Linked DNA regions of Homo sapiens: region 2 is linked to region 1. A link means that fine-mapping ties the variant in region 1 to the expression of a gene that starts in the linked region. Tissue or cell type: whole blood. Region 1 holds a variant in brackets; the other region holds the start of a gene. All regions are shown on one strand. Distances are from middle to middle. Region 1 overlaps MCTP2 (multiple C2 and transmembrane domain containing 2). Region 2 holds the start of MCTP2 (multiple C2 and transmembrane domain containing 2).

What was found. PIP is the estimated chance that this variant, and not a neighbour inherited with it, causes the effect.
Region 2: MCTP2 starts here. The variant in region 1 is fine-mapped to the expression of MCTP2 in whole blood (TOPMed, PIP 0.96).

What each region holds. Positions count from the first base shown.
Region 1 is chr15:94,482,322-94,487,709 of GRCh38, forward strand. It overlaps MCTP2 (multiple C2 and transmembrane domain containing 2), which reads left to right. Exons shown (of 23, transcript NM_001385001.1): 23 at 1-1,631. Among named protein-coding and RNA genes, the nearest start is that of LINC02852, 100 kb to the right of the region's middle. The variant A/G (reference allele first, on the strand shown) is at 3,112.
Region 2 is chr15:94,228,758-94,234,145 of GRCh38, forward strand. It overlaps MCTP2 (multiple C2 and transmembrane domain containing 2), which reads left to right and starts at 2,804. Exons shown (of 23, transcript NM_001385001.1): 1 at 2,804-2,907. RefSeq lists an enhancer at 1,059-1,198 and a silencer at 2,734-2,863.

The DNA.
Region 1 (5,388 bases):
CACCCTGGACTTTCAAATAGTGGCACTGGGAAAAAAGTAAGTAGAATTGAGAGATGGTGAAGAGATAAAGTGAGCAGGACTTAACAATTGCTGGACTATGGGATGAGGGAGCGTAGAGTCAAGGATGGCTCTCAGTCCCTAGGTCTCCAGGTCTAGGAAGATGGTGTTACCTTTCACTAAGGGAGAGAACTGTAAGAACTGCTGTGAGAGGACCACAGGAGTCCAGTTTTAGCGCTGAATCTCAGGTGACTGAAAAGCATCCAAATAGGAATGTCAGCAAGGTAATGGAATATATAGTTCTCAGAGAAGTAACACACTGTACTTGAGATGTACACAAGTTAAAGGCAAACATTGTATATGAAAAGTGATCAAAACTACATGCTTCAAGAAATTAAACCTTGAAGAACTCAACAGTTAATGTCATATATAGAAAGGCAAGTCAGTTAAGAGTGTAAATAGAAACGGGTAAATACAGAGGAGAAAAACAGTAAGCATGGACTGTCCTAGAATTCAGTGGCAGAGCATACTGCAAGAAAGCTGATGTGGTCAATAATATCAAATGCCGCTGAGATCACATAAGTACAGAATCATGACCTTAATGGTTTGACAGTTTGGAAGCACCCTGGCAACAAGCCATTTCAGTGGAATGGTAGAAATGGAAACCACGCTGGGTTGAGAAGTGAGTGGATGTGAAAATATGGGGCCTCTGAATGGAGGTAACCCTTGAAAAATTCCACTGTGGAGAAGAAAGGAGAGAGAGAGGGCTGGAATTTGGAATGAAAGGAGATATTTGGGATTATTTTAGTAAGAAAACAGAGGTGTCATGACCTCAGTGTAACCCTATTAGCTGCAAAAAATTCTTCATGGGCTTGAGATGGAGTTAGCCATATTCATTATTGAAAACTATGTTCTGCACTTATACATTGTTGGTTGGAGTGTAAATTAGTTCAACCGCTGTGGAAGACAGGGTGGGTGTTTCCTCAAAAACCTAAAGACAGAAATACCATTTGACCCAGCAATCCCATAACTGGGTATGTACCCAAAGGAATATAAATTGTTCTACTATAAAAACACATGCACACACATGTTCACTGCAACACTATTTACAATAGCAAAGACACTGGATCAGTCTAAATGCCCATCATTGATAGAATGGATAAAGAAAATGTGGTAGAGGTACACCATGGAATACTATGCAGCCATAAAAAAGAATGAGATCATGTCCTTTTGCAGGAACTTGGATACAGCTGGAGGCCATTATCCTTAGCAAACTAATGCAGCAACAGAAAACCAAATACCACATGTTCTCATTTATAGGTAGGAGTTAAATGATGAGAACACATGGACATGTAGAAGGGAACAAAATACACTGGGGGCTATTGGAGGGTGAAGGGTGAAAGGAGGAAGAGGATCAGGAAAAATAATGAGTACCAGGCTTAATACATGGGCGATGAAATAATCTGTATGACAAGCCTCTCTGACACAGTTTACCTATGTAACAAACCTGCACAGTTACCCCTGAACTTTAAAAAAAACTATGTTCTATCAAAACCTGCCTCTCATTTATGTATTAGGAATCTTGTGACAACGGAACAGTTGAAAAATTAAAATAAAAATTGCCTGAAAATGCATTGAGTAGTAACTGATAATTGAATAAATGCTGAAATCCTGAAGGGTGACTTCTAAAGGAATGGCTTCAAGCATGTTACCTCTGTGTAAAGCCCACAGCTGTTCTGTCCTAGCATTTATGTAATGATTTACACAGGAAAATGGATATTCAAGCACACAAGAATACTAATATTTTATGGCATTTATCAAATGCCAGTTACTTTCTAAGTGTTTTAGATATAATTGCTCATTCAAAATAATTCTAAAAACTGAAATTTCTCCAAATACTTATAGGAAAAAAAAAAAACCTGTCGCTCTTATACAAACTCTTCTAGACAATAACAAAAGAAAAAAAACCACTTTCTTAAGCATTTTATGAGGCCAACATAACTCTCCTTCAAAACCAACTAAGTTCTACCAGAATGGAAAACTACTTAAGAAAATCCCTTATGAAGATACAAAATTGTGAAAGATATACAGAAGTCTTTACACTGAAAACATCAGTGAGGCTTCCAGATACTTGACCAGACAATAATGAGTAGATAATCACAGTTCACATATATAAGAGAGAATGCTGGAATTCTACAGATAAGTGACAGGAAACACCTAAAGCAAGGAAGGGAAAGAAAGCAATACAGTCTGTTCAGGTGGGATAGGCTAGGAGCCAGGAAAGGCTTCCCAGTATGAGAAAAGAGTAAGTGGGTGACTCCTAGTGATCAACGTTCCCACTACAGACTCCCACATTCCAGCCATAGGAATGCCCCTAGACTATTGTGAGCCCCCAGACCAACATAGGGAGCTACCTGAAGACCGTGTGACGATACTGCCCCAGAGAGGGAGCACACATAATCCCACACACCCCCAAGTCCTAAGCAGCTACAGCAAGTTGTCACTTGGATATCTCAGCCCTCACCAGACTGCATTCTGTCCTGGGCCCTACAGCCCCTGCATCTTCATATCCCTGGAACCCCAATGACATGCTTCACCTGCAGCCACAACTCCAGCTGCCTGCTACCTGTAGGGCTTAAGTGTGAGCTGTTGGCAGCTACCACACTGCTCCCAACTGTGAAGCTGCTGTGCAGCTTTTAATCACCCTAAGGACAACAAATCCACCAGGTGACAGCCATAGCAGTGGGCTGCCTCAACTGGGGCCAAAGGCAAGTGAAATGTACACTTCCCAGGCACTTGTGTGCCACTGCTGCCATTGAAAGTGACTCTATTCTCCCCTGTACCAGGGGTGCAGTACAGCTGCTGCCACCCCAACATGAACATTCTGGGGCCTGGGGTCACACCGCCCCTGCCTTCCATAGTCAGTGTCTGCAAGCACTACTGAAGGATGTGAGGATGAGTCCACTGGACCTAGCTCTGACCCCCACCCCCTAGTATCAAATCATGGCATCTGGAGGCCTGGGGAGTACTCAGCCCAGTCCACCAATATTGGCACCTGAGCACTCCAACAAGGGCCCTGAAGTTGGGGCCACCCAACCTGCCACTACCATCACA[A/G]TGAGCACACACACACACACACACACACATACACGTGTCACCTGTGGGCCTGGGGACTGGCCTGCCCAGCCTGTCACAACCACTGCCAACACCACTGTGGAGCTCTTGGGACTCAGAGGTTAGTCCTACCACTACTACTGCTTCACCCATGCCATGCCAACTGCCCAAGTGCCCAAGGACACACTTACCACCAGCCCACGACTGCCACTATCATCACCCAAACAAGCTGCCTGGAGGCCCAAGAATTGGCTGGCTTGGGTCTGCTAGCACAGTGCCAGCATACACTGTCCTAGGGCCCAAGGACAGGCCCATCTGGTGTCCTTTTCACAAGCAAAAGTTCACCACAGCCTTCCCTAATAACCACAACCTAGGCCACTGACGAAAATCACAGACACCAGTGAAGCTATTTAGAGCCAAAGAAATCATGAGAGCTACACTACTGCATACACCCAGAATCAAAGCCAAAGTACCATACCCAACAAACACCACAGACACATCTTCAGGAAAAAGCCCTGCCCTAGGAAAGCAAGTTAAAAAATGGAAAGAAGTGATTGTCATGACAGATGTTCAGATATCAGTGTAAGGACACAAGAAACATGAAAAAAAAAAAAAAAAAAAAAAAGCAAAGATAGTACTTCCAAAGGGACATAAAATCCCAGCAACAGATTAACCAAAAGAAGAAATCTATGAAATCCTGGATAAAGAATTCAAAATACCAATATTAAGAAGCTCAGTTAGATCCAAGAGAATACAGAAAAACAATACAAATAAATCAGAAAAACAAGTTAGTATATGAATGAGAAATTTTCTAGAGATAGATGTCATAAAGAACAAAACAAATTCTGGAACTGAATGATTTATTAAGTAAAATACAAAATACTTTCAATAGCTCAACAATAGACTAGATCAAGAAGAATTTCAAAACTTGAAGACACGTCTTTTAAAATAACACAGACAAAAATAAAAAAAAATTGAGCAAAGCCTACGTGACATATGAGATACCTTATAGTGATCAAATTTTTTGGTGTTCCACAAGACAAAGGGAAAATAAAAAAGTTAGAAAACCTATTTATTGAAATAATAGCTGAAAACACCCTAAGTCTAGGAAGAGATTTAGACATTCAGATACAGAACGTTTAGAGATTCCAAAACACAATGCAAAAAGGTCTTCTCCTCAGCACATTATAATCAAATTGTAGTAAGTGGAAGATCAAGAGAGTACTCTTAAAAACAGCAAGAGAAAAGCATCAAGTGCCTCATAAGGGAACCCTCATCAAACTAACATTGAATTTCTCCTCAGAAATTTAACAGTCCAGGAGAGAATGAGATGATATATTCAAAGTGCTGAAAATAATAATAATCATCATCATCGTCATCATCATCTTTCCAAGCTAAGCAAAAGCTGAGAGAAATCATCACCCTAGACTGGCCTGGCAAGAAATGCTTAAGGGAGTCCTACCTGGGAGGAAAGAGACACCATCTACAATCATGAAAACACATGAAAGTACAGAACTAAATGGTAGCACAAACACAAAAATAAAGAAGAGAAAGGACACAAATATTACCACTACAGACAACTATCAACCCACAATAATAAACATTAATGGAGAAAGAAAGGAACAAATGATATACCAAACAACCAGTAATCAATTAATAAATAACAGGAATAAGCCCTCACATATCAGTAATATCTTTGAATGTAAATAGATTAAACTTTACACTTACAGGATATAGACTGGCAGAATGTATTTTTAAAATGACCAATTATATGCTGCCTATAAGAAATAAGAAGCCTGCAGAAAAGAAACTTACTACAGAGGAAAAGAAGCCTGCTGCATAAACTCTTAAATTTGATTATTCCATAAAGGTCAAATCATCATGGACAGCTTCTTTTGAATAAAGACCTGATTATACAGGCAAAAAAAAAAAAAAAGAAATCTATCTCAACTGTAAAGACACATACAGACTGAAAGTAAAGGGATAGAAAAAGACATTGCATTCCATGTAAACAGAAACCAGAACCAAAGGAGTGCCTATACTTATATTAGATAAAACAGACTTTAAATCCAAATTTATTAAAGGAGACAAAGAAGGTCATTACATAAAGATCAAGGAATCAATTCAGCAAAAGGAAATAACAATTCTAACTAATTATATATACCCAACACCGGAGCACCCAGATATATAAAGTAAATATTATTAGATCTAAAGGGAGAGATACATTCCAATACAAAAATAGTTCAGGATTTTAACACCACACTTACAGCTTTAGACAGA
Region 2 (5,388 bases), 250 kb before region 1:
CAGACAGCTTTCTCTTTGACATAAAGGGACTTGTCCCAGCAAGATTAGCTCTGTGTCCTCCAAATGGAGCCAGACTGTGTTGACTGCATGGCCAACTCTGATAGGATGACCCAAGGAGGCTCCCACTGAGCAGAGAAGATATGGAACTCTAGATCCTATGCATTTACAGACAGGGTCTTGTCTTCTTTAGAGAAGACTGCTTTAACCCTCATTGTCAAAGACTCTGGGTGGCTACAGCAATTTTCATTTGTTTCATTTGAAATACTCTGGCTCATTCAAAAAGGCACAGGGACGTGGCTAGATAACTGCACTAATTGTTATCTAGCCTTTGTATGCACTTAACCGTGCTTCTGCATGTATGACAGGCAGTATAGCCATGATAGCCAAGGAGTACACTGGGCCTTCAGAAGACACATCTTCCATTTACAATTTAAAAGAAGAGGTGCCAATATTAGATTGTCATGCAACCAAACATACATTGTCTAAGATATAAAAGCAATTGTATCTGAAAGTGGGAAATCTCCACCTCAATTATCACATTGACAATAGGGGCATTTCTTCAGAGGCCAAATATCTGGTTGCTCAGAAGAGAGAGAAAGCTGCCTATGATACGTGCAGGAGATTTTATTTTTTTTTAAGTATAATTATGACATCACTGACCAGTGCCTATAATGTAAGACCTGGTTCAAAATCTGTTTAGAGAAATTCAATATAACAAAAGTGTGTTAAAAATTTATCAGCTACATGTATGAGTCCAGTTGCCATTCTAAATGCTGGTGTGGTTATGTAGTAAAGTTAAATTGGTATAAGCAACAATATTATTCCCTGGAAGGGACATTTCCTGGGTGGAACATAGAAAAGGAGACAGGTAATATGTTTGAACAATTAAAAACAAAAAACCCAGGAAGCTGGGCAGATGAGTGTATTGTGGTGGGAAGGGCAAGTTGTGACCTTAGATTTCTGTATCTTTAGTTGTTTCACTTTCTATACCATTTAATGATTGAAAAATGCGGTTGGACTGCCGGAACCACAGAACAGGAACTCCACTGGGGCAGGAGTTAAAGGCAAAAAAGCTTTTGTGTGGGTTCACTTACTATTTTAATTCATTTGTATTCTTAGTCAGCTTTAAAGGTATGATTGCTTCGTCTGCCTACTGCTCTTTCTCTTCTTCCTTTCATGCTGTTTTACCCTTACCTCTCTCTGTTCTCTGCTAGGGGATGTAACCTTCGGCACGGTGGGAAAAGCCAATTTTGCCATAGGCCTCAGCTTGCTCTGACTCGGCTACTAACTTGACTCATAGCTTCAGGCAGGTTATTTCATGGTTCTGATGCTCATTTTCCTCATCTTGAATCAGAGATTTTATTAACTGTCTCCTGGTTTGTGAAAATTCAATATGATCACGTGTTACATGCCAATCACAGAAACTGGTGCGAAGTTGTGTTCCTCAGTGGTAGCTATTGTTGTAAGTCGGAATTGCATGACAGTGGCAGCTGTTTTCTATCACGTCCTCATGTTTTCTAAATTTTTATGCCCCTTCCTCCCATTTCCTACCTTAGTATTGTTAATAGCTAACTTTTATTAAGTGGTTACCATGGCCCAGGACACTGTAATGAGGATTTTATGTGAATTACCTAATTAATTTCTCAGAAAGTATGAGATAGCTATTATTTTAAGCTATTTAAGCTATTTTAAGCTATTTAAACAACCAGTTTGTTGAAGTTAAAATTTAGAGAGGTTAAGTGAACTCGTCCATTTACACAATTAGTTGCCCAGGCAGAATTTGATTTGAGGTCTGACTCCAAAGCCGGAGCTCTTAATCACCAGTGACACCAACTAAACGCTTCATTTCAGAGCTCGCCTATTCCCAGAGGTCCCATTCCCGTTTTAAGGTTATTTTCTGTAACTCTCTTGTATCTAATTTAAAAATGCTATTTCCCAGAGATGAGTCCCTGATCTCCCAGAAGGCATGGATCATACATTTCTTTTCCTAATCCACCCAAATTCCTAGAGCGCACAGACTTAGGCTCGTTCATAGACGGGAAAAGAAACTGACCAGGCAGTGAAACCGAGCAAACAAAGTGCAATAAGACAATTACAGCAGGAAAGCGGCGTAAAAAAAAGTAGAAAAAGAAAGTAAGGGAAAGGGGAAATAAATAGCAAATATTCGCTGAGTGCCAACAATCGCACGGGAGGGTCTTTAGGGTTCTCTGCCGAGTACTCGGGACGGCTTGCTGAGCAGTACGCCGGCCTTATCTCATAGATGAGGCACCAAGGCTCAGGAAACAGTTCTGTGGATCTGGGCGGGCATCTTCCACCCACAGTCGCGCACACGTGGCATAGGTTAATAGGCTGTCTGGCTCGGGTACCTCTTCCCAGGGTCAGGGCGTTACAAAGGGAGGCTGCTGTCTTCCCATGAATCTATTAGGGACCTACAGGAGCGAAGAGAACCCTTCTGAGTATCAGCGAAGACAGCTTATTAAGACTTTACGAGTTTGCAAGCCATCCTCGTCCTATTTCCTCACTTCGGACTTTTTGGACACACCTTCCTTTTCCTGTGAGCCAACCCAAACGAATGAGTTACAAGTAATCGCCTTCTCTACGCCCAGCCAGTGCCCAGCACCAAGCATAGCGCCTCCTTGCAACACCCGGCCGAGCTCCCGGCGGCAGCGCGGGCGCTTGGGTCGGAGGCTGCTCAAAGGTGACGCGCGGCCGCCTCCTCCCCTTTAGGCGGGGCTCGCAAGGGCGGTGGGGGGGCCCGAGGAAGTCCGGGGGCCCTCGGTGATGCCCCCGCCCCCGCCGCGTCAGGGTTGCTCCCTGCGCTTCCGAGTGGCGACTGCAGCGGGTCCGGTGCAGGTGAGGGGCGCGCGCCTGCCCAGCTTTGCAGCCCCCGAACGCGGCCTCGCACAGGTGAGGGCGGTGCCGGGTTCACCTGGCAGCGCGCGTGGGCCGGGCAGCACGGTCGCCGCCTGGGGGTGGGCGTCTTCTCTCAACCGAAGCTGGGAGTTGGGGAGCTGGAGGGTCCAGGATGAGAATTCAGTGGCGCTACTACCCCGGAGCTGCTTGTGGTTCAGAGATCAGAAAGGTGTCCTGAGGACTGGAGGCAGAAATCCAGGCGTGGCGTACTGGAAGGCGCACTAGGGGAGGGCAGCCTGGCCCAGAATTTCTTTGCATTTTAAAGGCCACACATTCAGTCTCCCCGGGGCGCTACGGAGGTAGTCACCGCCACATCCAGGACTCCTTCCACAGAGGTCAGTTCCTCAGCTGGGTGGGCTTTAATACGCTCTCTTCGTAGAGACCCGGAGGTTCAACTTTAATTCTTTGCGCTGACATTTGCTCAACGACACCGGAGCAGAAATCCTTGGGATAATTGCGTAGGTAACAAACAGTGTCTCAATCCCACTGAAGATAAGTAAGTTAAAAATAAAGACAGTGATGTTGGTGGTGAACTTGAGTGGCGATTAGTTTCCGCAATTAGTTCCCTCCTGCACTGTCCATTTGTTAAGCAAATGTGCTGACGGCTTTTTTTAAATGATTGGGTTGCCATAAAAGAGGTTTTCTCTAGTCTGAATGAACTTCTGTGCGATGCTGACTGAGGGTTTCAGCCTCCTCTAGATGCTTACAAGAGCTTGGTCTGGAAGGTACAAGGGTGCGAACCCTTAAGGTACCAAGCAGCTTCTCAGTGAACCGTGAGACGTTAGAACACTTGCTTCAGGACGCACAGAATTCAGACACCACTTATTGAAGGATTTGTATGGATTATAATTTACATTAGCATTCATTTTTTGCTTGAGTCAGTAGCATTTCAATTCAACAAATATTTATTGTACACCTGTTAACGGGCAGACCTCTGAGAGCCGGGCTGGTGTGCTGTTGGGTAGCACAGGTGTTGATATTAATACAAAGGGGAATCTTAAGGCACTTATTCCTCACAGGTGGGTGTTTAGAACGAGACCAATGGTGCTGCGCTTTGCCTCAGCAGCACCTGTGTAATCGCTGGTTATAAGTATTTAAATGCAGGGAGAATGTAAATCTTTGAAGAGTCTCTGTCATTAGCCTGATCAGTCATTCCAAAGCAATAAAAATTGTCAAAACCATGCTTAAAATAAGATTATTAAGAATTAGCTCTGTGCCAAGCACCATGCTAGGCACTTTGTCTTGTCTATGAAATCTACAAAGTAGATACTATTCCCCTGTGCAGATAAGGAACTGAGGCAGAGAGGAGTCCAGTAATTTGTACAAGGTCAGTGGTGAATTTAGAAATTGCATGTGGCTATTTCTGAGTGCAGAACTCGTACTTTTTCACTATTCCATGCTGTCTCTAAGATGGAGAGTGTAAATCCGGCAGATTTAATATAAGAATTCAAATTTATATTCATAGATCCTATCTCCTGGGGATTAATGGAGTTAAAGTAGTCCTCAGGAATGAAGTGAGCACTGTTTTCATTGCACTTGTGTGGTCAAGCTGTGACCTATCTGTGACTAGTAGATGTAGCTTTAAAAGATAAAATTTATTATGTGTCTTAACATATTTTGAAAGGCCTTTCAAAATATGTTAAAAGATAAAATTTATTATGTCTCTTAACATATTTTGAAAGGCCTGATATATCCAAACAGGGCCAATTAATAAAATTGCATATATATTCTCTCTGTGTTATACATGGAAGGAACAGCTAATTTCCTATTATTGGTGTGCTTTACTATGGTCTCCTCCTGCAGAGGTGAGTTTCTCAGCTGAGTGGGCTTTGAAATCAATTTCAGCTTGATTTCTTACAGCTGCAAGATGATTAGCGGTCTCTTGTCACCTGGAAAGGACTTTGTGTTTGTGTAAACCTGTGCTCACACACGAATATATATTTTTCCTTAAACCTATTTCCAGAAGTACTACTTCTGGAAATTGTAGAGTACTGCAATGTGATGATCTGGCGAGGAATCAAGTTCCTTATTTGACTTTTGCATAAAGGATTTATAACAACTGACAATTTCTTTAAGTGCATGTAAACCAGGAAAGTAATTTTCAAATTAAAATTATTATACTGTGGAGAATGGAAAGTGAGTGAAAAATAGTACTCTGAATTCAAATAATATTTCTTGTTGTGGAAAACACTTGCTTTCTTAAAACTTTTCTTGTAATTGTTGGTAATTACACACAGAAATGGAAGGGGTTTTATATTTAAATTACCTTGAATTGTTGCCAGTTAACTGTTGAGAAAAGGCTTTGCCCGTGAAGCGAGGATCAGGTAGAATATTTTGCCTGCGTCAATCTTGGCACAGATTTTTTTTTTCCCTCTATCTTCACGTGGAGGTGAAACAGCCAGACACCTTAAACTCCTCTTTAGGAGCTGAGCTGTTAAGTCCTTCCTAGAAGGTGTTTATAAAAGTGTGCCTGAC